7 linked regions of the Homo sapiens genome follow. The protein of the gene in region 4 purifies or fractionates together with the protein of the main gene of each other region. This does not show direct contact. Each region holds a gene or a part of one and is shown on either strand. Other genes may lie near its edges. The genes, in order: LPIN2, ZNF516, LZTS3, DYRK1B, AKAP11, PPP1R3F and KIAA0232.

The links.
Region 1: the proteins of DYRK1B (region 4) and LPIN2 purify together in Homo sapiens (affinity purification with mass spectrometry; 2 studies listed by BioGRID and IntAct, with this or other methods). This does not show direct contact.
Region 2: the proteins of DYRK1B (region 4) and ZNF516 purify together in Homo sapiens (affinity purification with mass spectrometry; 2 studies listed by BioGRID and IntAct, with this or other methods). This does not show direct contact.
Region 3: the proteins of DYRK1B (region 4) and LZTS3 purify together in Homo sapiens (affinity purification with mass spectrometry; 2 studies listed by BioGRID and IntAct, with this or other methods). This does not show direct contact.
Region 5: the proteins of DYRK1B (region 4) and AKAP11 purify together in Homo sapiens (affinity purification with mass spectrometry; 2 studies listed by BioGRID and IntAct, with this or other methods). This does not show direct contact.
Region 6: the proteins of DYRK1B (region 4) and PPP1R3F purify together in Homo sapiens (affinity purification with mass spectrometry; 2 studies listed by BioGRID and IntAct, with this or other methods). This does not show direct contact.
Region 7: the proteins of DYRK1B (region 4) and KIAA0232 purify together in Homo sapiens (affinity purification with mass spectrometry; 2 studies listed by BioGRID and IntAct, with this or other methods). This does not show direct contact.

What each region holds. Positions count from the first base shown.
Region 1 is NC_000018.10:2,936,332-2,940,228, forward strand, and holds part of LPIN2 (phosphatidate phosphatase LPIN2), read right to left. Parts: intron 3,273-3,897; coding exon 3,149-3,272; intron 1,707-3,148; coding exon 1,361-1,706; intron 1-1,360. UniProt on the Homo sapiens protein: Acts as a magnesium-dependent phosphatidate phosphatase enzyme which catalyzes the conversion of phosphatidic acid to diacylglycerol during triglyceride, phosphatidylcholine and phosphatidylethanolamine biosynthesis in the endoplasmic reticulum membrane.
Region 2 is NC_000018.10:76,435,884-76,439,780, forward strand, and holds part of ZNF516 (zinc finger protein 516), read right to left. Parts: intron 1-3,897. UniProt on the Homo sapiens protein: Transcriptional regulator that binds to the promoter and activates the transcription of genes promoting brown adipose tissue (BAT) differentiation.
Region 3 is NC_000020.11:3,166,975-3,170,871, forward strand, and holds part of LZTS3 (leucine zipper putative tumor suppressor 3), read right to left. Parts: exon of another isoform or gene 1,524-3,897; intron 1,331-1,523; exon of another isoform or gene 1,017-1,330; intron 988-1,016; 5' UTR 897-987; coding exon of another isoform or gene 825-896; 5' UTR 764-824; intron 208-763; coding exon of another isoform or gene 190-207; coding exon 1-189. UniProt on the Homo sapiens protein: May be involved in promoting the maturation of dendritic spines, probably via regulating SIPA1L1 levels at the postsynaptic density of synapses.
Region 4 is NC_000019.10:39,831,299-39,835,771, forward strand, and holds the start of DYRK1B (dual specificity tyrosine-phosphorylation-regulated kinase 1B), read right to left. Parts: upstream 2,865-4,473; 5' UTR 2,725-2,864; intron 2,351-2,724; exon of another isoform or gene 2,048-2,350; coding exon of another isoform or gene 1,969-2,047; intron 1,882-1,968; exon of another isoform or gene 1,674-1,881; intron 671-1,673; coding exon of another isoform or gene 570-670; coding exon 507-569; intron 1-506. Other genes in the region: FBL (rRNA 2'-O-methyltransferase fibrillarin), read right to left, coding at 3,240-3,264, 3,370-3,515.
Region 5 is NC_000013.11:42,303,152-42,307,048, reverse strand, and holds part of AKAP11 (A-kinase anchor protein 11), read right to left. Parts: coding exon 3,186-3,897; intron 1-3,185. UniProt on the Homo sapiens protein: Binds to type II regulatory subunits of protein kinase A and anchors/targets them.
Region 6 is NC_000023.11:49,276,029-49,279,925, reverse strand, and holds part of PPP1R3F (protein phosphatase 1 regulatory subunit 3F), read right to left. Parts: exon of another isoform or gene 2,532-3,897; coding exon of another isoform or gene 2,398-2,531; intron 1-2,397.
Region 7 is NC_000004.12:6,858,830-6,862,726, reverse strand, and holds part of KIAA0232 (uncharacterized protein KIAA0232), read right to left. Parts: intron 1,827-3,897; coding exon 1-1,826.

The sequences.
Region 1 (3,897 bases), on a different chromosome or scaffold from region 4:
ACCCACTGTACCAAGTATCGATGGTTGGCTTTTTATTTTCAAATAGTAAGGATGTTCTGATTTATTAAACTTGTGTTCCAAAAGTGAGGAAGAACTGTTGAACCAAGAGTTGGATGTTTTCTCTACTTATTTTGAGACAGGGTCTCACTCTGTCACATGGGTTAGAGTGCAGTGGTGCAATCACAGCTCACTGCAGTCGTGACCTCCCTGGGCTCAGGTGATTAGAATAACTTCTTAAGGTAATTTTTATTTTTTCTTATTATTTTTGAGACAGGGTCTCACTCTATCACCCAGGCTGGAATGGAGTGGCTTCATCTTGGCTCATTGCAACCTCTGCCCCAGGGCTCAAGCGATCTTCCCACCTCAGCCTCCCAAGTAGCTGGGACCACAGATGAACGCCACCATGCCAGGCTCAGTTTTTTATGTTTGATAGAGACAGGGTTTCACTATGTTGCCCAGGCTGATCTCGAAATCCTGAGCTCAAGTGATCTGTCCACCTCAGCTTCCTAAGTACTGGGATTACAGGTGTGAGCCACTGCACCTAGCCTTCTACCTATTTTAGAGGGAAATAATCAGCAAAAGAAAGCACATACTCATAATCATAATTAGTATGCATTGATTTTTATCTGATATTACTGCTAAAAAACCTACCTAATTTAGCCTCAGCTAAGATGTTTCAAGTGAAAACATTTTTTCTCTATTCTAATTTTTTAAGATTCTACTTCACTTTACTGACATACCTTATCAATAAAGTGGTTAATTTTACTCATCAATTGATTACAACTCATTATTTGTTTTCTCAGTAAATGCTTCTCAAGAACCCACTGAGTAGCAACAGTCAAGAGACAGCAGTGTGCAAGTCAGGCCCTGCTCCAACTGGACTTTCCAGGGGGACGCCATGGAAAGCAATTGTAAGAAAGTGAGTGACGGGCCTGGGCACGGTGGCTCACACCTGTAATCCCAGCACTTTGGGAGGCCGAGGTGGGCAGATCACCTGAGGTCAGGAGTTTGAGACCAGCCTGGCCAACATGGTGAAATGCCATCTCTATTAAAAATACAAAAAATCAGCCGGGGATGGTGGTGTGTGCCTGTAACCCCAGCTACTCAGAAGGCTGAGGCAGGAGAATTGCTTGAACCCGGGAGGCGGAAGTTGCAGTTAGCCGAGATCACACAATTGCACTCCAGCCTGGGTAACAAGAGCGAAACTCCAGCTAAAAAAAAAAAAAAAAAAAAAAAAAAAGTGCGACGGGTTTCGACTGGTGAATACAAATACAGAGGCAGCCATCACGTTATGTGGAACACTGAAATAATTTACCATCTAATTTGAGAGTACCTGGAGCCAAATTAAACAAACGATTACCTTTCTTCTTTGACGGCGAGTCTACTTTAGCTGCCGGTTTGGATTCTGAGGGCGCCTCCGCTAAGGCTGCGTTGGGAAGGTGGTCAGCATCTAACATAGATGAAATCTGAGTACTCTCAAGAGGAGGTTCGAGAAGCTCTGCCACAGATGTTGGGTCGCTCATCTGTGTACCCAGGGCTCTGGGTTTGGGCTTCACTATGGTACAGACAGTGTCTTCCATGGAAGCATCCTTCTCAACTTCACTGATGAGGTTGTCCTCACTGGGAATTACCCGAAAATGAGTATTTTCTGATGGTGTAATTGTAGCTGTCCTAGGATGATGGTCAGATCGTTCTCTTTTGCTGACCTAAAAAAGTTAAATTGTTTAAAAATTAAACTACTTTCAGAGTATTTGTTATAATCTATTTCCTAAGCTGGCAATGTGTTCATTCTATTTTTAACTTAACACATTCATTAAGTATCTTAGTTTGTACATGTAAAAATTCCATAATAAAGTGAGAAAAACTAATAATTGCCTTTTGTTCAATATCATGATACTTATAAATGTTCTGGCCGGGCACAGTGGCTCACGCCTATAATCCCAGCACTTTGGGAGGCCAAGGTGGGCAGATCACTTGAGGTCAGGAGTTCGAGATTAGCCTGGCCAACAGGATGAAACCCTGTCTCTACTAAAAATACAAAAATTAGCCGGGCATGGTGGCAGGCGCCTGTAATCTCAGCTACTCGGGAGGCTGAGGCAAGATAATTTCTTGAACCCAGGAGATGGAGGTTGCAGTGAGCCGAGATGGCACCACTGCATTCCAGCCTAGGTGACAGAGCAAGACTTTATCTCAAAAAAAAAGGTGTACGTTAAATGTTCTACTGTGAAGTTATACTGGAGAAGACTGAGGAAACTGACAATTTTCAGTTACTAAGAAGTAGAAAATACTCATTTTGGGGGAGAAAACTAAATGAAAATTTCACCCTCCTTGGACCACATCAAGGCTCTGTTAAAACAGTGTAAAAGTGGCAAGTCTAAATTCGATCACAAATATATGCAAAATGTATATTTTAAAAACCTAAATTCAACAGAAGATCTAAACATTTTCTCTCTCAAGAAATTTATCTTCTCAGTTCTTTCTTCTTTCATTATGAGCTGGAAAAAAAGGTTTAACAATTTCTTGTTTAAAATTTCAGTGTTGGCTGGGGATGGCAGCTCACGCCTGTAATCCCAGCACTCTGGGAGGCCAAGGCAGGAGGATCTCTTGAGCCCAGGAGTTTGCGATCAGGCCAAGCTGATATAGCGAGACCTTGTCTCTACAAAAAATAAAAACTAAAAAATTAACTGGGTGTGGTAGCACACACCTGCAGTCTCAGCTACTTGAAAGTCTGGTGTGGGAGAATTACCTGAGCACAGGAGGTTAAGGCTGCAGTGAGTTGTGGCTGCACCACTGCTCTCCAGCATGGGTGACAGAGCAAGAACTCTGTCTCCAAAAAATAAAAAATAAAAATTCAGTGTGAAAATTTCAGTTTAAGATGCCTTTTAAAATGTCCTTATAATAATTAACAATCATTATTATTCAGTAAATAGAAATATACACAAAATACTACTGAAATCCTTCGGTTGCAAATATATAGTCCAAATGTTACAAAAAATGTTAACTTTGAATTTACTTTTATGACATGAGGGCACTATCATTTACATTCATGAGAGCTCAGTCAGAAATTGCCTCCTTTACTTATGGGCAGAGGAATTCGTCACTTGTTTAATCATTAACACACTTTCCACAGGCAAGTAAACCCTAGTACCTTGGTGGACTCTGGGAATCCGCCCCACGTCCACTCCATGTGAGACTCTGATCTGAGCAGGCTCTCCGCAGGTTTCACCTCCAGCTCTGAATCACTCTTAGGACACGCTGTCTGGGGATAGGTGCTGCAAAGAGAACAAAGACACACGATGACTTGAAAGTCGGGAAACCTTCAGTCTTGCTGAGCCTGACAGATTAAAAGAAACAAATCTGAATATCTTGACTTTATCCTGCATATATAAAAACTCTATGGAAGGGAGCATCAATTATTTCTTCCACTTGAGTTCTTTAATAATAATAATAAAAATGACACCAACTAGTATTTAAGAGGACTTACCAGGTCCTTTGTAAACAAACACTGTAGATTCATAATCTCATTTGCTTTTCACAAGAAATCAATGAGAAAGAAGATAATTTTGTAGGAAAGGAAAAGCAGGCAAATTAACATAACACCTGAGAATCTGATTGCAGAATAAACAGTTATGACTATACTTTTTTTCACTATATTATTCATTTACAGCCAACAGTTGACACTAAAAGATGAGAATTTTTAAGAATTGCAGATGAGTGGGCACAATGTCTCATGTCTGTAATCCCAGTGCTTTGGGAGGCCAAGGCGAGAGGATCACCTGAGGCCAGGAGTTCAAGAATAGCCTGGGCAAAATAGCGAGACTCTGTCTCTACAAAAAAATTTAAAACTTAGCTGAGCACAGTGGTGCGTGCCTGTAGTCCCAGTCACTCAGGAGGCTG
Region 2 (3,897 bases), on a different chromosome or scaffold from region 4:
CTCTGGATGTTCTATGGCTCCTTTTGGTTAGGGAAAACACCCCAGGGAGCCCTGTCAGGCCTGGCATGGGCCACATGGCGGACAGTAGCTCTCACTTTTTGGGGGCACCTGACTTCAGGACAGCCTGTCACCCCTGCACTTCAGGAGCACCAGAGCAGTCTATGTGTGAACATTTATTAGATATTATGCAAGATGAGCCTGGGGCTGTGGCACGACGAAGGAACTGGGCAGAGCCCGGCCGAATGAACCTGTCTGGATACTAAGGGGGGCTGGCCTTCTGCTTTTTACCTTTACCCATTCTGCAAGCTCCTGTTTAATAGAGGGCCCCAATGCCACCAAGACCCCCTCAGAATGAGGACATCCCACAGCTCCAGGCCATGGAGTGGCGTTTGCCATGAAATTGTTCCCAGCCGTGTGTGCTTTCCTTCCCCAGCTGAACTGGATGCTATTTCCTGCCTACACTTGGAACTTCCCTTGATGAACGCACTTCACTCGTTTTCTCTCCTCCTTGGTCCACAACCTCTTTCTTTGAATCGTTTTGAGCCTCTCGTGGGACCCATGATGAACACTGTGTGAGGACAAGCGCTCCTCCCAACCCATGACTTGGCTTCAGAGAGAGCTTTGCCCGTGTTGCGTCCAAGCCAGGACACCGCTGAGTCCCCGAGAGACTCAGCATCGCGAGTGGATTCAGCTGCAAGGTCAGTGCGCGAAGGTATTGTGAGAGCTCCTCCTGCTCTACCTTGAAGAAACGCTTAGAAGAAGTACCATATAAAGGTTGCCCACACCCAGCAGGCTTGGCCGCACAGGCAGACACCCCTCCCAGCTCACCCCCTCATTCCATTCTCCCTTCCGCTGGCCAAATTCACCCTCAATCCTGTTTCAACGGGTAAACACATCCTCCAGGCCAGGTGCAGTGGCTCACACCTGGAATCCCAGCACTCTGGGAGGCTGAGGCGGGTGGATTGCTTGAGACCAGGAGTTCAAGATCACCCTGGACAACATGGCAAAACCCCATGTCTACCAAAAAAATACGAAAATTAGCCACGTGTGGTGACCGCCTGTAGTCCTAGCTGCTCTGGAGGCTGAGGTGAAAGGATGGCTTGAGCCCGGGAGGCGGAGGTTGCAGGGAGCTGAGATTGTGCCACTGCACTCCAGCCTGGGTGACAGAGCAAGACCTGTCTAAAACACACACACACACACACACACACACACACACATACCGTCTCTCACCCTCCCTAAGCTATTCTAATTGCTGTCTGTGTTCTATCAGAAAGAAAGAAGGACAGTTGTTGAACCTCTGTGCCCAGCCGCATGACTGCAGCCTGGCCTTCCTCACAGCCAGCGCACCAGCACGGACAGCCAGCCAGCCTCCAAGCACGTGCTCAGCAAACACCTTACAGCAAAAGCCTCAGTGCGCCTGGTGACAGTGGAAAGAAGATGGGCTCTGAGGACGGGGCTGCTGGGCGGCAGGGAGGCAGCCAGCGAGGGGACGGGAAACGTGAGACACTCTGAAGGTAGAGCCATTTCCTCCTTTAATTACCTTTCCTTCCCTTGACCATATTTTTTTTTTCTTTGAAGACTCTTTCCTTGATTCTTCAAATTGCATATAATACCAAGGCACTTGTTCCAAGCACTTTTTTTATTCTATTGAGTCATACAATTTGCCATTATGTTGATCAAAAACAGTTGAACACAATGGTCCTTTGTGGGACAGGGGTGACTGATTCCAGGACTCCCCGATACCAAAATCCAGGATGCTCAAGTCCCTGGTGTAAATGCCTGCGTGTAACCCACGCACATCCTCCCGTACACTGTAAATCATCTCTAGATTACTTATAATAATGCAATGTAAATGCTCTATAAATTCTGCTGTGTTGTTTAGGGAATAACAAAAAAAAGCCTGTATATGTTCAGTACAGATATAAACATCTATTTTTCTTTAATATTTTCAGGCTGTGGTTGCTTGAATCCAAAGATGTGGAATCCACGGATACACAGGGCCAACTGTACTTGTAACTTCCCACAACATCCTCTAAAACTTGAGGGTGTCCCATCTATTGAGTCGCAGTGAGTATCTAAAAAGTGAGGGTGGGTTCAACAGGATGGAGTATGGATTTTACATGACAGATATTAGCACGACAAGAAATGGTGAAAAGCGGGAGTAGTGAAATTAGTCTTGAATGATATGCAGCTCAACGGGGCACCGCTTGTGCATTATGAGCACCTCAGAGCATCCGCCATGGCCTGGGCACCAGGCATCCCAGTCCAGGCACTTCTCAGGATGGCACGAACTCTGACAGCAAATCTTCCAGAGATGTGCAGCCTCTCTGCATGCTTCTGTTATTCCTAAGTCGCCTAAATGCTTTCTGAGCAGAATTCTATTTTGGCCCATACACTGAAGGTTTGTATGTCTCCTTGCAAAGCAATATTCGTTTTTCCTTAGTGATGGTTTCTAAGCTCCCTGAGCCTACTTGTGTTTGGGAATGTTGGAAATGTTGATTTTTACAAACTCCAATTAGATGCCCTTTCACCCCTCTTTCTTACTAAAAATATTAACTTTTTATGAAGTCCAAAAGTAGACTTTCTGTCCATGCCACGTCTCTTTCTCAGTGGAGGATTTAAATCTAGTAACATATTCCCAATGACTGACTTTTTTTCCATAATTTTGCACTTCTACTATTTTAAGTCAATAACGAGAGCTGCTGTGACCAAGTCTTATGTGGGGATAAAAGTAACATGAATATCAGAACACTTTCCAGAGGAATAGATGGCAACATTCAACTGACGAAACATGTTCCATAAAAAAAAAGGAGAGGAGTTTCTTTCACTTAATCTAATAATGCAAATTATTTCCAGATCCAGAAACAGCATTCAAATCAATTCCCAGATGTCAAAGAAAATGTTCGGGCAAAATTATGGCACAACTGGGTATTACTGGAATGGTCGCATAGATCTGAATTCTAATTTCAACTGTGCTCCCACAGGCAGGCTGGCTGCTGCTTGTAAGAACCACTGTGATCTTTCGTTCCTCAATTCCCACACAGACACTCTAACAGTGTTAACCAATCATCCCATCAGAGTTCCATGAGAATTTAAAATAACCTAACACTTAAAGAACTAAGTAATCTTTTTAGTAACAGGAAAGGCAAGCATTTCCCAAAGTTGCGTGTATTTTTTCAGAAAAAGAAAGGAATGCTGCAGATTTAAATATGAGATTCAAAATACCCAGTTTCTTTTCCAAGCTAGCCCTGTGAAAGACCTGGGCCAAATCCCACAAATCACAGTGTTTTGAGAGTAGTTAAATCAATGGAACACGGTCTCTCTCTCCTTAAAGAATATCCATGAATTAGTAATTTGTTGCTACACTAGACCATTAAAGGCAGCTGTTGTGAGTGAAAAGTTGGTGTTTTTAGATAGAAAGATACTGTCCTTTGGGATTACGGAAAGTGACCCACATACACCTACAGGGCTCTTCCATGTTTCATGCCTCTGTCGAGCCATAAATTTCTGTCCTCTCTCAATAAGCTGAAATATCCTATTTATTCTATCACCAACTGTTTGTTACATTCAACTATGATACATGTCTTGTTATAGAATCAGCTGAGGTCTGTATTAACTTTCTCAAAAAGTTACACATAGAGAAAAATATATATAATGTCTTTAAGACATAAACAGTAGTCTCTAAAATTTAATGAGCCTGAAAAAAGAGTACCTTCCAATTTATGATGGGAATCATTTGATCTTTCCAACTTCTTGATTTCTAAAAGCACTACTGGATTAGCTTACTATGAATCAGGTGACCACCATCATAATCAATGGGGTGAGTGAGGCCCAAGAGCTTTTCCAAATATTAAGAATATTTCTCTTAAAAGTGAAAAGAAAAAAAACCCATAGTCC
Region 3 (3,897 bases), on a different chromosome or scaffold from region 4:
GCCCCCACCCCCTGTGCGGGTACCCACGCTCTTCATGGCAAACTCCTGGGCATGGGCCACCCCACTGCCCACGCTGCCCATGGCCAGGCGGGGGTCCGGGGGTCCAAGCTCGGAGGGCCGTGGGGCAAAGGCCAGGAGAGGATCCCGCCCTGGGTCAGCGCGCACAGGCAGCGTCTCCAGCTTCGCCATGACTAAGCCAGGGGGGCACTGTGGGCACAGGTGGGAAGGCAGAGATAGGTAAGACCCTACTCCTATTCCCACCACCCCAGCCAAGTCAACCCGGCACCGCTCTGCCCCTCAGTGTCCCCTTCCCTACAATGGGTACAAAAAGTTCCCAGGCATCCAAGGTGAAGGAATAAGGCTGGGATAAAAGAGAGAACTTGGGAATGGGGGCTGCCTGTTGCCCACCTGATAAAGCCCAACCCCCAGGGCTCCATGCACATAGCCCCCAGCGTTGCTCAGCTCAGCTCAGCTCAGCTCAGCTCAGCGTTCCATTCCTAAACTTCTGCCTTAGCCCCACCTCCGCCATGAGCTTCCCAGGCTCAGTGACCCTCTCAACTCTTTGCTGCAACCCCAGAATTTTGGGGTTCTTTATCTTGGGTCTGGGACCCTAATATCCCAACCTCATGGGCTGGGGAAATGGGGTTGGAAGGGGAGAGCAGTACCTGAATCCAACAGGGAACCAACCTCAGAAATTAGGGGAGGGAGAGAAATACACCCCTATCCAAAAATTGAGGGTGGGGGTCCTTCCCAGCCCCCTAACCTAAGTGTTGCAGTCAGGGCAGAAGTGGAAGCTCACTACCAGCGCAGGCTTCTCTCCTTGCCTTTCCAAGGGGTTGAGGGGCCGACGGGTCCTCAAGCCTGGGACCCTCCGAGGCCCGGTCTGCAGGGGCCATGTGCCTCACTCTCGCAGTCGGGGCTCGGCCCGAACCAGCTGCGCGACTTTGGAGGGGCCGACTGAGCCATCCCGGACTGCAGTTTTCTCCTCTGCGAAATGGGAGGAATGAAGGACCTACCTTGCGGGGCTGCCGCGTGCCAGGCGCCCCGAGGCGGCGAGCGCCTGAGGAAACGGGGGTCTGGGGGAGGGTGGGTAGGCGACGCACATCTGGGTCGCGGGTGGGCGCCGCCAAGGGCACAGCCTGTCCCTCCCGGATGGACGGGGGCCGCGGCTGCAGTAGGTGGCAGGCCTGCCCTCCCCAAGGTCTTCCCAGCTCGGCCGCACCGGGGCCCTGGGAAGACAGGGCCCCCTTCCCGGGATCAGTCCTCCGCAGAGGTCCCAGGGCTGGCTGAGGCCGGGGCAGGGGACGCAGTGGCGCCAGCTGCTGGCACTGACGGAGCCTCTCTCAGGGCCTGCGTTTCCCACAGGTGGGAGGGGGGAGGGGAGGGGAGGGGCCGCTGCAGGGTGCGCGGCCCCAAGGATCCTGCGCCTGCCGAACCCCGCAAAGAATTCACTGCCACCAGGAAGACTTCCCGGATTACTACCCTCTCCCGCTCCCTGTGGACCTTGACCCTGCTCAGCTTACCGTGAAGCCCTCTGAGTCCTTCTGTGGGTGCGCGTCCCCCTCCCCCAAGGCCGGCCCACAAGCGCAGGGGGAGCCAGGCCTCGGGTTACCTGTGCTCAGGGAGGCCGTGCTTCCTCGTTCCTTTGTCTCAAGTTCGCACCTGGGAACACCTGCCCCAGAGATCTGCATAATGCAGCCGGGCAGGAGCACCAGGCAGTGTCTGCCTCGGGTTAGACCCTCAAATAAGTGTGTGGGAAATGGGAGAGGGCGCCCTTCAGGCCTTTTCCCACTACACCCTGCATAAACCAGGCAGGGAGCCCTCCTTCCCTATCAAGTTAAGGGGCCCACGTGGCACCCTATGGCCCCACAGACCGTCTTCTACCCAGATGCCCAGTTCTAATGCTGAGTCCCTGGCCCAGACCAAGGGCACCTGACAAAACTGTTGTCCTTCGGGAGTCTTCTGGCCCCCACACCAGGAATGAGAGCTCTAGGTTGTTGGAAAGTTCACTACCAAGCCTGTCCACTGTCTCTGTAGAATTCCATTCTCAGCATCTGTCCCCACAGGTGTGGAGAAGAGCACTTCGCCACCCTCCTCCCTTGGACCCGTCTGTCCCCATAAGCAAGGGCCAGGACTAGGATGAGGACAGAGAGCCACGTAGGGCACAAATGAAGGGCACAAACAGCAAGTACACAGCCCTGAGGGTGACAGCCTCCTTCCCTTTGTGCCTTGGGTCCCTCTCTGGCCTCACTCTAGTCCCTGCTCTGCCTCTACTCCCCAGCATACTCCAGCCCCCTATGCCTCAGCCCTGCAACCCCCTCCTACCTTAAGTATGGACCCTTCTCTTGCCACCTCTGGGTGCAATGTGGGGAGCAGCTGGGGACTGGGAGGATGAAGCCTGAAAGGCCTGAGGCTTGGAACCAGTAGGAAGGCCTGGGCAGGGTTTGGGAAAGAACTGGCAAAATTTCATACAGATGAGGTCAGGTGGTGGGGACAAGGGATAATGCTGGACTGGGCACCAGCGTGCGTGTGACACTGTTAACATGATAGGGGGAGACTGCTTGGGGAAAATAGTTGCTTTGGGAAACACCAGAGGAAGATACCTCTCAAGCACTAAATGGAGGCCAAGCAAGGTGGCTCATGCCTGTAATCCCAGCACTTTGGGAGGTCAAGGTGGGCAGATTACTTGAGGCCAAGAGTTCAAGACCATCCTGGCCAAATTGGTGGAACCCCATCTCTACTAAAAATACAAAAATTAGCTGGGTGCGGTATGCATTCCTGTAATCCCAGCTACTTGGGAGGCTGAGGCACGAGAACCCCCTTGAACCCAGGAGGCAGAGGTTGCAGTGAGCTGTAATTGCACCACTGCACTCCAGCCTGGGTGACAGAGCGAGACTCTTTCCTTAAAAAAAAAAAAAAAAAAAAAAAAAGCACTAGATGGAGAGAGATTGAGATCATCAGTTTTCAAGGGTGCTGGGGGTGTAGGCCAGCACTGAGCCAGGGAGCAAAGCCCCAGAAGTCTGGAAGGCACTCTGGGAGCAGGAAGAAGGCCAGGAGAAGGTGGGCCCTGAAGGCCAAGATTGGGGGGATTCAAGAATGTGGGGACAGTTTCCAGTGTTAAAAATAACAGGGCCAGGTAACACTGGGGTTGGAGAGTGTGCTGCGGATTTAGGAGCTGGTCTCGAGACATCACCAATGTCTATGTCAGAATGGTTTCAGAAAAGTGGTACAAGTGCCGGATGCGGTGGCTCACACCTGTAATGCCAGCACTTTGGGAGGCCAAGGCAGGCAAATCACTTGAGGTCAGGAGTTCGAGACCAGCCTGGCCAACGTGGTGAAACCCCGTCTCTACTAAAAATACAAAAAATTAGCTGGGCGTGGTGGTGCGCGCCTGTAATCCCCTACTCAGGAGGCTGAGGTGGGAGAATCACTGGAACCCGGGAGGCAGAAGTTGCAGTAAGCCGAGATCATGCCACTGCACTCCAGCCTGGAAGACAGAGCGAGACTACATCAAAAAAAAAAAAAAAAAAAACAGGTTGGCGCGGTGGCTTACGCTTGTAATCCTAGCACTTAGGGAGGTCCAAGACAGGTGGATCCCCTAAGATCAGGAGTTCGAGACCAGCCTGACCAACAGGGCGAAACCCTGCCTCTACTAAAAATACAAAAAAATTAGCTGGGTGTGGTGGTGCATGCCTGTAATCCCAGCTACTCAGGAGGCTGAGGCGGGAGAATGGCTTGAACCCAGGAGGTGGAGGTTGCAGTGAGCCAAGATCGCACCACTGCACTCCAGCATAGGTGACAGAGCAAGACTCCCTCTCAAACAAATAAACAAAACAGAACAAAAAAAGTGGTACAAAACAAAGGCAGTCCACAAGGCTAGAGGAGTGCAGAGAAAGA
Region 4 (4,473 bases):
ACTGCCTTCACTGCCTCTAGCCTTGGGAGAGCTTTGCCCTCACCACCCATGCCTGTTGGCCTCAAGACCCTTTAGACTCAACCCCCCTCCAAATTCACCCAATCCAGATCTTTCACTCTGAACTTTTCTTAGTAGCATTTATTGGGTATTTACTATGTGCCAGGCACCATTCTAAGTGTTTTACATGCATACCATTAACTCATTTAATCCTCACAACAACCCTGTGAAGTAGGTATCATTATTGGCCCCATTTCACAGAATGAGTTGAGTTCTCCAACTCAAGTATGGAGAACCTAAGGAATTTAACCACTGGGTCAGGATTTGAACCCAGCCTCTCCAAACCCTGACTCTGCCTGAAAACTCCTCTGTTATTTTCCAATCCCATGGGACCCATTATGTGCCCAGAAGAATGTCTTGGGCAACCACACTACCTTTTGGTCTGGAGACCTTTCTATCCCCAGCCTCCCCCTACCACCACGCAGGTGAGGAGCCAGCTGAACGCGTACCTGCGTGTGCTCCTGGGGCCCTGGGAAGCCAGAGAAGGGACCATGGCCCGGTGGGACGGCCATGGTGGGCTCAGAGGGCCGCAGGGGAGCGAGGCCTGGAGCGGGAGCCCGGCCGGGGGGCGCCTTCTTGCATCCTGCACCTCGGCTGCCACCGCCGCTGAGACCTGAGAGCAGACAGGAAGTGGGAAAACAACATGGAACAAGGGGATATGTGAATAGTGCCAGGCGGGGAAGAGTGGACATGAGAAAGACAGGGCACAGAGAGAAGAGGAAAAGGGCACAACGGAGCAGCAGATAGCAATGAAGAGAAGGGGCAGAGAAGTGGTAGCCAGGTGGGGGGGGATGGCACAGCAGTCCCTCGACAAATAATGATCAAGTAAATGATTAAGGCAGCACAAAGAGAACACATAAAAGACAATGATTGGGGGCCAAGCAGGGGTCGATATGAGCCATCACAGGGAAAGGAGGACAGGAAGACACCAATAATTCAGAGGAGGAAAAGAAAAAAGAAACCACAGACAGTATGCAGAGGAGTAGGCTTCATTCTTTTCTCACTACTCGTGGCCCTCCCCAGGGCCCCTAACACAAGATGCCACTTTCTGTAGTCTTCCCTGAACATCAGGATCTCAGCCCGTAGCACAGCCAGGGCCAATACTTTAAGATCTATCCTTCTCAGTAGATTCCCTCAACCCAGAGAACTCTAGGATTCCCAAACCACATGAGTCTTCCCCTCCCAAACCACAGCAGAGTCCTCTGCAGCCCTAAAACCACATCAGCGTCCTTGGGGACCTCCCAACCACACCAAAGTTATCTGAGAACCTCTATAGAACAGAGTCCTATCTCTACAGCATTCTCATCCACCAGGGCACGATTTTCCTAGGGGACCCTCTCCATATCATGCCAAGACCGCTTCCCTATTTCAGGTCCTCCATATTAGGAACCAGCCTTCCAGGTAGTCTCCCTGTACCATATCCCAATTCCCCCTACCACAACAGGGTTCTTCCCCATATTACTCCAATATCCCATCCCAATCAAGGCCCACTCCTCCTGATGGGAGAAGGAGGAGGTGTCTCTTCCCACAGTTTAGAGTGATCATCCTTTTCTCCCCTACACTGCTTCCTTGCCCCCCTACACACACACACACACCCTAATATTCCTACCACAGACCTTTCTCCAGGCACCCCTCTTTATACCAGGGTCATTCCACAACTGTGTCCACTCCTAGAGGGCCTCAAAGTCAAATCCCCAAGTTATCACATAGGGTTCTCTCCTCCCAGAGTTGTCAGCTACAGCAAAAATCTTCTCCCCATGGGCCACTCTCTCCCCCATGTCAAATCCCTTTCTCCTATTCCATGCCTTGCCACTCCACGACTCCTCCACCCTTGGAGCTTCCCCCAAAAAACCACCTCTTCTCCGGGGCCCTCCCACACCAGGATCATCTCTCCCAGCCCCCACCCCCTACCCGGGTCAGGGCTGGCGCGGGGCCCACGGGGGGCTGGGGCGCGGTGGGGCCCCCAGTGGGGTGGGCGAGCGGCCAGCATGGCGGCGGTGGCGGCGCTGAAAAGGCGACCGCCTGTCTCTGGCCCGGCCGGCCCCGCGGCGGGGAGGGCAAGCGGGACAGGAGGCCCGGTGGGTGACAACAGCAGCCGCCACTGCCACCGGGGGCGGGGAGAGGAGGGGACAAGGGTCAGCCCAGGGCACGCGGGGGAAGAGTAGAGCAGGTGGACGGGGGAGGGGCGACACGCCCCACCCTGAGTGACCACCAGCCCCTAGGGACCCGGCGTCCCGCCCCCCACCCAGGAGGCCCTCCTGGGCCTGCTGAGACCGGAAGGCGGGGCCCGACTGAGCTTGGCAATCGGCACCTGCCATGGCAACAACTGTACCATTGGTCGCTGGTGCCAAGAGCTCAGCCAATCACAGCCTAGGGCAGCTGTTGCTAGGCGACGAAGAAGCGGCCCGCGGAGCTGAGCCCAAACAAAGGGCGGGAGTGGGGCCCGGCTACCCCCTCCCAGCCTCCCTCCTGCAACTGCTTCCTCGGGCTTGGCCGGTTCCAGGAATTCAACTATGAATAGCCAGGCAGGGCCCGCACCTGCCTGCCACCCCCCTCCTCTCCTCCCTTGGCCTCGTGCTAAGTCTCACGGCGACGGGAGCAGGGCGGATCCCGTCCTGCCCACCTCCCTGCGACCGCTTGCCGCCCCACCCGTCCCCGCGCCGTTACCTGAAGGAGCGGGCAAGGGGACTCAAACTGCTCGGGGAGCCCGAGCTCAGACCTGCCCACTGGCTGAGGGTATCCGGCGGACGCGGCAAGCCAGGGCCCCGATTACCCAGTAATGCAACCAGCAAAATGGCGACCACAACAAACCGGCCCCCCCACGCCCTGGACTCCGCCCCCATCCCTCCCTCTCCGCTCCCCTCACGTGACCCACACTGACACTCCGCCTGCGCGAGATGGCCGCTTACCTGCACGCATGCGCAGCGAGCTACCAATCCCACCCAAGAACCGAAATCCAGGCTGCCGCTGCGCAAAGGCAGCTAGAAACGGAGCATGCGCTCTGTGACCGAGTGAGAATTTACCCAACCCCGCAAAATTGACCAAGGGTGCGTGCTCCCTGTGTCAGCAGGTCAAGGGGAGGAATGAGCAGCAGACATGGGAGACGGATGAGTCTTTTAATAGAAAAACACACGTGCAACAGTATCAACACACATCTCTCGCAATCCTGACAGCGCTGAACTTCAGTTCTTCACCTTGGGGGGTGGCCTGTGAGAGGAAGATAGGTGATGAAGGAGGGTCCCCAGGATCATGGCACTCGGGGTGCAAGGGACAGAGATGTCTGTCTTGGTGTATTGCTGGGCCCCTGCTCACCTGTACACTCCCACGACCACGGCATGGTCTCTTTCATATGGCTCAAGGGTCAACTGCTCCTGCGGCTTCATGTTCTCCTGTTGCATCTTTTTCACTTCGGAGGCAAACACGGCCTCGGCTGAGGCTGTGGAGTCAATGCAGTTGGCCTAAAGAGGAGAAAGGACTAATGTCTACAACAGGGCTTTGGGCTGTTTTTCTCTTGTGTGCTCTTTAAACCAGATGTTTTCATTATTAATTCAAGTAAAACTCAGTGCTATGGTTCTAGTGTGTCCCCCAAAGTTCATGTGTTGGAAACGTAACCCTTAAATGCAAGAGTTGAGAGGTGGGACCTTCGAGAGATGATTCAGGTCATGAGGCCTCTGCCTTCCTGAATAGAGTAATGCTATTATCACAAGAGTGGGTTGCTGATTAAAAGGATGATTATGCCCCCTTTCTATCTTGCTCTCACCCTTCTGCCAATGGATGACAGCAAGAAGGCCCTCGCCAGATTCAGACCTCCAATCTTGGACTTTCCAGCCTTTGGAACTGGGAGCCAAATAAATTTCCATTCATTATAAATTACCCAGTCTAAGGCTGGGCGTGGTGGCTCACGCCTGTAATCCCAGCACTTTGGGAGGCCGAGGTGGCTCAATCACGAAATCAGGAGATTGAGACCATCCTGGCCAACACGGTGAAACCCTATCTCTACTAAAAATACAAAAATTAGTCGGGTGTGGTGGCGCACACCTGTAGTCCCACCTACTCGGGAAGCTGACGCAGGAGAATCGCTTGAACCCAGGAACTGGAGGTTGCAGTGAGCCGAGATCGTACCACTGCACTCCAACCTGGTGACAGAGTAAGACTCCATCTCAAAAAAATAAAAATAAAAATAAAAATAAATAAATTACCCAGTCTATAGCATTCTGTGATAGCTGCATAAAATGGGCTAAGACACTCGGGTTTAGGAAATGTGATAAAAGGCTTAATGAAAGTTTTTGGCTGGGTGCAGTGGCTCGTGCCTGTAATCCTAGCACTTTGGGAGCCTGAGACAGGCAGATTGCCTGAGCTCAGGAGCTCCAGAGCAGCCTGAGCAACATGGCAAAACCCCGTCTCCACTAAAAATAT
Region 5 (3,897 bases), on a different chromosome or scaffold from region 4:
GTTATTTTGGCTCGGAATGATAGCTTAGAATATAATCGTTTTGTTGGCTAAAAATGCACTATCAGCCAGGCACGGTGGCTCATGCTTGCAATCTCAGCACTTTGGGAGGCTAGGGCAGGAGGATTGCTTGAGCTCAGGAATTCAAGATCAGCCTGAGCAACATAGTGAGATCTCATCTCTACAAACAAACAACAACAAACAAAAATGAATAAAAATGTACTATCACATAATTTCCCAATTGCATTCACATGCCACCTCTCTGTTCATTACAGTTTGTGAAATATTTATGGTCATGTTCATGAATCAAACAAAAAGGGACATCAGGTGAAATAATACCTTAAAGAATAATCCATCTGAATGAATCTCCTTTCAAGTTTGAAAGACAAATTTAACTTTAGAAATAAAAAATGTTAAACGTAAACTCTACACACTAGAGTCAGCTTTCCTTAGTCAGTATTTACAGAACCCTAGCACAATTATTAAGAAGAGAAGCAGGAAAATAATTACTCCAGCCTTAATAAAAAGCTGAAATTGGACAGCACTGGCTTACAGGAAGAACTTTAGGGGCTATCTACTCACCCAACTCTAAGAAGGAAAAGTGGAAATTACTGAGAAAATCAATAACAAAGGCATTTGCTAGCCCCTGAGAGTGATGTCTTAAAAACTTTAGAGGACAGTCTCTTTTCTTCCCATGAGGGTGGGAGGAAAGGGGGATGGATGGGTCCGTAGGGCAGACAGGACTGAACTGAGGAGGAGTAAAAAGTAAAATAGCCTGAAGCAACCTGTATGAGGAAAATTATTTCAATTGTAAAAAGGCCTAATTTATTACCTATTCATGAGAATATTTATTAACAATTTATTATGTTTATTATCATACTAGGAACTGGTATGTAGTGAAAACGAAAATGTGGATCTAGGACAGAGGTTCGCAATTGTTTTCTGTAAGAGGCCATGATATGGTTTGGCTCTATGTCCCTACCCAAATCTCATCTCAAATTGTAACCCCCAGGGAGGGACCTGGTGGGAGGTGATTGGATCATGAGGGCGGCTTCCTCCATGCTGTTCTCATGACAGTGAGGGAGTTCTCATGAGAGCTGATGGTTTTAAAAGTGTCTGGCAGCTCCCCCTTCTCTCTCTCTCCTGCTGCCTTGTGAAGAAAACACTTGCTTCCCCTTTGCCTTGTGCCATGACTGTAAGTCTCCTGAGGCTTTCCCAGCCATGCAGAACTGTGAGTCAATTAAACCTCCTTTGTTTATAAATTACTCAGTCTCAGGTGGTATCTTTATAGCAGTGTGAAAATGAACTAATACAGGCCAAACAGGAAGTACATAGGCACTGCTGGTCATACAGCCTCTGTCCCAACTACTCAACTCTGCCATTATAGCACAAAGGCAGCCACAGAAATGTGTAATTGAATGAGCATGGTGGTGTCCCAATAAAACTTTATTTATAAATACTGAAATTTGAATTTCATATAATTTCCACATCACAAAATATCATTTGATTTTTTTCAACCATTAAAAAAAAACATGAAATCTGTTCTTAGCTTGCAGTCCATACAAAAACAACCAGTAGGCCACATTGGCCCACAGACTGTAGTTTGCCAACCCCTGGTCTAGGAGAAAGAAGGCTGCCTGATTAGGGCAAATAGAGACCTCTCCTAGTTCACCAGAAACCTACATCATCTCTCATCTCAAGTAGACGCTATGGAGCAATTGGATTCAAGAATCCTGGCCAAGCTATATCTCCCTATTTTAAGATGGATAAGAAAAGAGGCAGACCATGTCATGGCTTTAACAGAAGCTACTCAAAAATCTGGAATATCATGTGACTCAATTAAATTCCACCTCAACTTAAAGCATTTTCTCTTTCAAGCAGGACTTACAAATATCATCCTATCAACTAATAACACAAGTTGGTCCTGATATCTTCTCAGGGACAAAGAAGGTTTAAACTGAAAAACTGTAACTAAGTTGTTATTAAAGAATCACTGAGCATGGCTGGTTGCGGTGGCTCACGCCTGTGATCCCAGCACTTTGGGAAGCTGAGGTGGGCAGATCACCTAAGGTCAGGAGTTCAAGACCAGCCTGGCCAACTTGGTGAAACCCTGTCTCTACTAAAAATACAAAAATTAGCTGGGCGTGGTGGTGGGTGCCTGTAATCCCAGCTACTAGGGAGGCTGAGGCACAGGAATCGCTTGAACCCGGGAGGCAAAGGTTGCAGTGAGCTGAGATTGTGCCACTGCACTCCAGCCTGGGCAACAGTGCGAGACTCCATCTCAAAAAAAAAAAAAGAATCACTGAGCACAAGAGATAGCTACTGAAAAACAGGACACTGTAGGACTACCAGAAAGAACTGTCCTCTTAGATTGTGAACCAATCAAGAGAAATGGTGTAAGTATGTAAAGAATTTTCACTTTCTTCTTCAGAGTAGTTTAACCATGGTCTTTATAAGAAAACTTACCCTTGTGAATGAAGAAAGGTGTACAAAAATTTAATCTCAGAATAGTAAATTAATATAGTAATATTCTACATTTACTATAGAATAGTCCCCCCTTATCCATGGGGGATATGATCTAAGACACCCAGTGGATGTCTGAAACTGCAGATAGCATCAAGCCCTGTACATACCAGGTTTGTGGACCTGATAACTGAGATACCTTCTAAGTGACTAACAGGTGAACAGCACATGTAGTATGGATAAACTGGATAAAGGGGTAATTCACATCCTGAGTGAGATGGTGTGAGACTTCATCATGCTACTCAGAACATGCAACTTAAAACTTACGAATCGCTTATTTCTGGAATTTTCCATTTAACATTTTCAGATTGAGGAAAGCAAAATTGAGAATAAGGGGGGACTACTATATAAAATTCTCTAGCTATTTATTTAATTCAACTTTACCTATTTCATAGCTCTATGAACTTGGATAAGGTGATTATTTTCTCCAACCCTCATTTTCCAGCTCTGTAAATGGATAACACCTTCCCTCAAAAGGGATCAGGAGACCAAAATATATTAAAGTCATGTGTAGGATATGAAACAATACATAAATGCAACAGGGAAAACTTTTGTTTATGTAGGGTTAAAAATAATCATTCCTTTATGAACAGGACCTAAGACATATAGGATCACATTTATCTTTTTAATTTATCATTAACAACCAAAAGAAACGTGAAACTTACCTGCTAACAGCATGCCCAACATTTGTGACAGCTGCTGTCATGGTTTCTGTGGCAAGGCTTTCAGCAAAGCTGGCACCCTCCTGTCCGATCCCACTGTCGGCTGCCAGGCTGGTACTGCTCAGCTCTCGCTCAGCTTTTTCAATGGCTTCAGCAACTATCTTCTCAGCAAGCACTGCCTTCTTATCAAGATTAACATGAATCTGAGGGACACTGAGATGAAAAATCCTAGATTTCTGATAGCGGCTGCTAAATTTTGGATTAGAAGCTGGCTTACTACTGGCGAGAGAACCCTGTCTGAAAAAGTGCTGAGATGAATTTCCAGTGCAATTGTGGAGTTCTTTAAGGTCACAGTATCTGCAAGCTTGACCTGTAAGAGGTGACAACTTTTCTGCATAAGTGACCCTGTCTGCTGATTTTGTGGTCTCAGACACTCGGAACACTGTAGATCCTAGAGTTAGCTCTAGAGTGTCATCCACTACTTTTTTGGCATACTGTTCTACAGCTTGAACAACATTGTCTCCACAACCATATCCATTTAAACTGCCAGTGCTGTGGTAAAACCTGTGATTTTGTGAGGAAGGCTGAAGAGACTTAGGCAATTCTGGTGTAACGTGACACTCATTATCTTCTTCATATCCAGATTTTTCAAACAAGCAAGAATCTGTTAAGGATTTTGGTAGGCCAACTAGAGAGGCTGTCAACTCTTCCTTAG
Region 6 (3,897 bases), on a different chromosome or scaffold from region 4:
ATCCCTGAGTGGCATAAGCCGAGTGCATTTCAGGTGGGTCCTCCCAGGGGTGGCATCTCATCATGGAGAAGTCACTGTTCTTATTCTGAAAATGAGTATCAAGTGTCTACAGATTAAGGTAAATGAGGGAAGCATTGACTAAAACCTGAGAGGAGCTGGGGCGAATGCCCACACCTTTTTCTTCCTAAGAGGCAATGTGACATTCTTGATACTTCTGACAATGGTTGAAAAATTTTTTTTTTTGAGATGGAGTCTCGTTCTGTCGCCAGGCTGGAGTGCAATAGCATGATCTCGGCTCACTGCAACCTCTGCCTCCCAGGTTCAAGTGATTCTCCTGCCTCAGCCTCTCAAGTATCAGGGATTACAGGTACCCACCATCACAGCCAGCTAATTTTTGTATTTTTAATAGAGACGGGGTTTCGCCATGTTGGCCAGGCTGGTCTCAAACTCCTGACCTCAGGTGATCCACCCTCCTCGGCCTCCCAATGTGCTGGGGTTACAGGCATGAGCCACCGTGCCCGGCCTGGTTGAAACTTTTTGAAAACCCATAACCAATTACCTTCACAGAAACGAGTATCACCATCTGACCCATACATAGTACCTACTATGGCATTACACACTGTTCTAAGTGCTTCACATTTTTTTAAAGAAGTTTTTGGGGTTTTTTGGTTTTTGTTTTTGTTTTTTTGTATTTTGTTTTTAGAGATGGGGTCTTCCTACGTTGACCAGGCTGGTCGTGAACTCCTGGACTCAAGCGATCCTCCCATCTCAGCCTCCCGAAGTCCTAGTACTACAGGCATGAGCCACGGTGCCTGGGCAACATGTGTTAATTCAATCCTCACAATCACCCTATGAGACAGGTACTTGTAATCCTCTGAAGCAGGCAGTACTATTGTCTCCATTTTACAGAGGATAAAACAGAGGCTGAGTAAATGGCTCAAGGTCATACACTTCACATCACAACCCAGGCCTTTTGGCTCTTACCCAGTCAGCTGCTGCTTCTTGGATGAGGGAGACTGGGGTCTTACCCAACCCATCTCCATCCTTTCTAGAAGTAGATAGAGGGAGGCATCAATACTAGACAAGATCCCTCCCTCCTCCTTCATGCAGGCTTTTCTTTGGACCTGCCTTTGCCCACATATTCATTCCCCATTTCCCTACCTCCATGGGCCTGGGACATGCGTGGCTAGGAGGCCACTAGACACAGAATGGCTGCAAGAACTGCTTTCTATAAACACCCTCGGGGAGAACATTTGAACCATATATACGGATCTAGAGTCTAGAAGGGACCGTCTGTCTTTCTCTACTGTCTAGGACTCACAAATCCCACCAGAGGTACTTGAATCAGAATACTACAGGGCCTAGGGTGGGTGACTCTGGGAGCCCAGCTGCCACCTCCCACACATCACAGATGAGAAAGAGAGATTCAGAGCAAACCAGCTTGGTCTCACACCAATCCCCTCCGTGGTCCTAAAATCCAGGTCTTTGGACTTTTGTTTCAACACAATTTCTGCCAGGCTGCACTAACTTACTTCTTTTTGTTACCATAGTCCTTCATGACAGAAAACATCCTCCTCCTAGGATCTTCTAAACCAAGCCTCTTCAAGAAGGCCCACAGACAGACAGAAAGCCAGCCCTCCCACCTGTGCGCAGTAGCAGGCAAGCCTTCTCCTCCATCTGGCCTAGTCCGGACATATATTACAAACAGGCTTCTAAAAGCCACTGCAGTCATAGATGTGAGACAGAAAAAGGAGAACACTCAGGAATCAGCTAGCCAGCAGGTAAAGGACTCCACAATTCAGTTGGAGGAAGGAGAAAGAAAAACAAATACACAATCAATCCTTCAGCCCCCAGAGCACCCTTTCCATGGCTGAGGAGGGCGAGAACATCCAAAAAGCAGGTCACGCCATTGAGCCAATCCCAAGATCCACAACATCGACAGAAGCAAACAAGTCGTTCTCCAAAGTCAGATATGAAAGCAGAAAGCACAAGCATGTATTGTTCACCTCCTCCACCATGGGCCCCTCTCATTGACACACCAAGGCATTTGAAAACCTTCACATCTATCCTTCAAAACAACACCCTTCCTTTTTACAAATGCAAAAACTAAAACTCAAGGAACTGCATCTCTACACTCACTGACTACACAACCACGCTGGTAACAAACACTCCAGGAGGGCTCCACTTTGAAGAGAGTTTGAAATTGTGGGCTTAAAAAGAAACAAGTTATCTTTGAACCGTCTTTCACAGTAAAAACTCAAGGGCAGCTATGACTTCAATCAACATGAGGATAGTAAGAGAAATCAAGTACAAATGTATACTGACTCACTGATCGGTAACAGAGAAGAGGGGTTCTTAGAAAAATGGGGAGGGAGAAGATTAAGAACAAAACTGTACCTGCAGTATGCCTGCTCGTTTTCAAGAAGGAAACCTGTTCTTTTGGCACCAGCCCCACAAGTACCACGTGGCATCCCCTCAAGGGCAGTGAGCCATAGGGGCCAGGGCACACAGATCTGGAAAATCTTGGACATGCATCATTTGGGTGCTAGTGAGCACTAGTCAAGCTGGTGTCGACTAAAAGGGGCCATCTCAGGCCTGCACGCCAGTCTCCTGGGCGTGCAAATTCCTCCGGCCATCAGGAAACACAATGGCTGCCAAGCTGATAGGCCCCGAGGAGACCAGAGGGTGAGGATTTGGAAAGAGGTGGTGTTGGCCCCGGCCTAGGCCAGCCAAGAAAGCCAAGAAAGGTGATTCGCCAGTCACAGAGTAAGCGAGCGGGTGAGGGCTGACAAGCCCTGTGGAGAAAAGCAAAGCAGACTTTCAGAGCAGTCACAGACTGCCATTGCCACCACCACCCGAGTCCTCTGGAGCACCCCCAGCATTCATGTTTTCAAAGAATTTTGCCAGCCCAAAGTGGGTCAGGCACTGAAACCCAAAGGGAAACTCAGCAGACCCCGGCTCCCATGTAGTCAACCTGAAGATAACGCTGACTTTCCGGGGGGATGAGTGGCTTCAGAAACCTGCCCCACGATACTCAGAATTGCAGTTACCCTGAGCCATCTGCTTTCTGAAAAGAACAGGGTTTGAAGGTGGCTGTGAAAGCCACCAAGTTATGTGGGGCACTGCTTTGCCTTCCCCAACAAGTGTGTCAGCCTCAACTCTGGGACTTGCGGGTGATCCAGTGGGGTAGAGGGAGAGCAGTTTCTCGTGCCATGAGCTTCTTCAACAGCCATGACTTCATTCTTTGGCCACGACCCATAGTAAGAAATCCATTCTACATCATAACCCAGCACACCCACACGTGTAAACAGACATATAAATAACTGAAAAATGGTTGTTCTTCGAGTGAAACAATACTTACCTTTACTGCATGTGGTGATACACTGGCATTTCTTATGCTATTTCCTTTTTCTTTTTAATGCTTGTTGAAACCCAGTAAATTGATTTCACAACTCAATAAAGGGTTAGGATATGCAATTTTGAACAATTCCAGCTCTGCCACCTATCAGCTGTGTGACCTGGGGCAAGTTACTTAACCTCTCTGTGCCTCAGTTACCTCATCTCTAAGGAGGGGATAATAATACCTACATCAGTGAGTTGTTCAGCAGATCAAAGAAATATTTGAAAAGTACCTATAAAGCACTTAACAGTAACCCCCTCCAAATTTCCATTGAGGGAAACTGAAGCTCTGAAAGGAAAGCAACTTGCCCAGTGTTGCCCTGCTGGTAAAATGCATCACCCAGCCTGGTACAGTAGCTAAGAGCTGGAGCACTAGAGCAGGACCACACAGGCTCAGATCCCAGCTCTGCCACTTTCTTAGCACGTGGCCTCAGGCCCATGTCCTTAACCATAATGCCCTACCAAGTTTTCTGTGGCATAAAAGAGGATCACGTTCAC
Region 7 (3,897 bases), on a different chromosome or scaffold from region 4:
AAACTAATGTAGGAATCTCACCTAAAGTTCTACTGTTTTGCTGGCAAGTTTCATCTTGCAAAAAATCTAGAAGTTCTTCATCTACATAATTTGACGAGACTCTAGGAACTACATAATTAATATCTTCGGCATTAAACTGTGTGGATTCTTCAAACTGAATATTTAATGTTTCATTGTCTGAACGTGTTTCTTCTGAATGGGACCATGGACTACAAGTTCTTGTTGAAAGATTAGAACAGTGTTCATTTTCTTCAAAGGCACTATTTTTGGTCCATATTAGCAATCTAGACTGTGTTTTCCCAAGCATATTAGCACTAGAATCTGTATTTTCATTTCCCAAGTTGAGTGTTTCAAAAGAAAATGGTAAAACAGAATTACTGCATTGCACTTCAAACACTGAAAAACAAGAGTTTATACCAGATCCTTCATTAATATCTGAAAAGAGCTCTTGATTGCCAGCAAGCAGGTGTGAATTGAGCACTGTGCTGTCTAAGATGGGAGAGAGTCTAACTGGAGAGTCTCCTCCAAAACTCTCCCCATCAGCATCACCGGAGCTGGATGAACAGCACTCCCAAAACTGAGCCAGATTGCCAAGGTCCTGCAGGAATAAGCCCTCAGCACCTACGGAGCTGGTAGAATCTGTCCATATTGCACGTTCCCCTTGCAACTCCATACCATCTAACACTATGCAACATTCTGCCTCAAAATCTGTGTTCTCTTTGCTTTTCTGTCGAATCATATTCAAAATCCGACTTTCTCCTTGCATTGTTTCTGAGGCACCAGGATCCAACATGGATTGATCAATATCCACTTCATAGAAGTGCGTTAATTCTGATAGATGAATATCATCCAGGTATTTATTGTCCTCTGGTAGAGAACATAATGAGGTCCCAGTGAGGTCAATATCCTCATTTATAACTGCAGGCATTTCTACAAAATGACCATCAATGAAAGTACCTGCTGCGAGGTATGTTTTATGAAGATTATTGTTGCTGATACAAAGACCATGCACTGATTCAGACAATTCTTCCACTGCCTCTGATGTCAGATCACTTGTATCCTGTCTGTTTCGGTATGTGGTCTCTAGTTTACTTTTTCTGCTCAGAGGAACAAAATATTCAGCAATTGGCTCGGTGTACCACAAGGGCTCCTCTTTATACTCTGTGTCCTTTCTATTCTCCATGTACAGGTCTTTTCCTTCAGTGCTCCCAGGATCTTTTCTCCCTATTTCTTTTAAAGGTCTCTTACCCCGCTTGCACAGCTGTTTGACAGAACCACTGCTGCTACTGCTACTACTTCCAGTATGAATGTTCCTTTCAGCCTTTTCACCGTGCTTCAAAGAAAGCCTGCTTTGCCCATTCCGCCCTTTTTTGTTTCGAATCTCTCGTGCCTTGTGTCTTACTTTAACATACTTCATGGATGCTTTTAATTCTCCCTGATTCCCACTGGAACTTGAGCCTGCTTCACTGGAGCCAGAAGACCACGAGCGAGGGCGAATCTTTCCTTCAGGTTTATGTCGGATTTGCTTTTTGTACAAAGCAGGCTTTTCTTCAATTGTGCCATTACTAAATTTGTTTTCCTTCTCGTTTTTGCTTTTGCTCTGGGTTTTCTCATGCACAGTGGTGGGTACTTCACTGCTTCTTTCCTTGGTGACTTCACTTTCACTGTTGCAGTCCTTAGGAGAGGAAGTATCTGTGCTAGCTGGTGGGGCTGTGGATGATGAAGAAGAGCTAGAGTAAGAACAGACTTTAGACTTGTTCCACACAGTCATGATTTCTTGCAGGCAAACTGGTTTCTCAGAAAGTGGTGGAAATGCTTCATAGTACCTGAAAAACAGAGTAAAGACTTCAAAACACGAGTATGCAGATTTTTTAGATACAGTAAAACAACATTACCAACCAGAAGAATGGAATATTTCATTTTAGTAGTGTCAACATTCACATCATCCAAGAATCATTAACTTTACAATAATTTATAATACAGTAAAATATGCTTAAGATTAGTCCCATGCATCAAGCACCATTTTGCTCAGCACTGTGATACGCACTGTAAGATTACTGAGAAAATATGTAAGATGACAGTTTTTATCTTCAAAGTTTGCATTTTAATTAAGAAGTCAAAAAGGACAAATAGTAGAAGAAAGAATGCAGTCTCTTCAGTAAGCATTATCTGAATTTGAATCTCAGCTAAGTCACTATTGCTTGCGACTTTAAGCTCATTATTTACTGCTTCAGACTATTTCCTCAACTGCAAAATGGTGATCCTATGACTTACCTCCCAAAGTTATTGTGAGCGTTGAAAATATATGCGGTTAAAAAGCTCGGTAGCAATCAGTCAAGAGTATGAGCTCTGAAGCCACATTCTCTGAGGTCAAATCCTGGCTCTGCCTGCTTTACTAGCTGTGTGACCTTAGGCATGTTACTTAACCTCTCCATAGCTCAGTTTCCTCACCTACAAAATAGAGCTAGTAATATTTACCTCTCAGGGTTGTGAGGAGTAAAGGAATTAATATGCAAAATGAGTTGGAACAGCAGCTTCTTACGTAACTGCTAGCATACTGCCTGGCATTGAAGCAGGCCCTCAGAAAGGGTAGGAATGATCACATTCAAGTATTCAGAAAGAGGATGTCGGTGAGGCCTACAACAATTAAAGTGGGCCACAACTGAGCCTTGAAATTCCAGATTTATTCCACAAGTTTAGTGAGTACTACCTGTGAGGCCTGAGAGCCTGTGTGAGGACACCAAGACACACATGTTATGCTCACAGAATGGAAAACTAACTAGAGCTGTGATCACCAGAAATGCAGCGTAGAAAAAGCCAGGGAGGCTGGTTTCAGGGGGCTTGAAAATGAGAAAGTATTTTTGATTTGCTAGGAAACTGGGGGCCACTGAAGATTTCAGAGCAGAACAGATTGCAAAGGGCAGAATTTAAAGTCACATTGGCTACTGGGGACTGTTGTTTCAGAGGCAATGCTCAAGGTCACACATGAAGTGGTAAAAGGCCATGTTTTCAAAGGGCCTGAACTTGATTCTCTTTCTCAGTCTATGTCAGAGTTGACCAACAGAAATATATTTTGAGCTTCATATGTAATTTTAAGTGTTCTAGTAGGCACATTAAAAACATAAGAAATAGGTGAAATGCACTCCAGTAATATATTTAACTAAACTCCTGATATTATCATTTCAACATGTAATCAATACTTTAAAATGTTTAATACTTTACTTTTTTTTATATATAGTCTTTGAAATCCAATGAGAATTGTCCACTGACAGCACATCACGGTTTGAACCAGCCCCATTTCAAGTGCTCAGTAGTCACACATGGCTTACAGCTTCTGTGCTGGATAATACAGGTCTATACAAACCAAGGAAATGCTATTTTTTTCTTAGGTTTCAGAGGTTCGAAAGATTAAAATAAAATGTATAATAGGGAAGTCTGTTTATAATGCAGATTATTTTAAGACTATTTACGAACAAAAAAATAAAAGTATCTTTAGGAAGCAGGTTTGGCAGGTCAAGGATTGCCTATGTTCCCTCTGCAGTAAACAGTGGGAACTCAGTGTTCTTGCTTGTGAACATGGATAATCATTTCTTTTCTTTCTTGTTTTTTTTTTTTTTTTTTTTTTTAATAAGACAGAGTCTCGCTCTGTCGTCCAGGCTGGAGTGCAATGGCACAGTCTCAGCTCACTGCAACCTCTGCCTCCCGGGTTCCAGAAATTCTCCTGCCTCGGTCTCCTGAGTAGCTGGGATTACAGGCATGTACCACCATGCTCAACTAATATTTGAGACTGGGTTTCACCATGTTGACCAGGCTGGTCTCAAACTCCTGACCTCAGGTGATCCACCTGCCTTGGCTTCCCAAAGTGCTGGGATTACTGACATGAGCCACTGTGCCCGG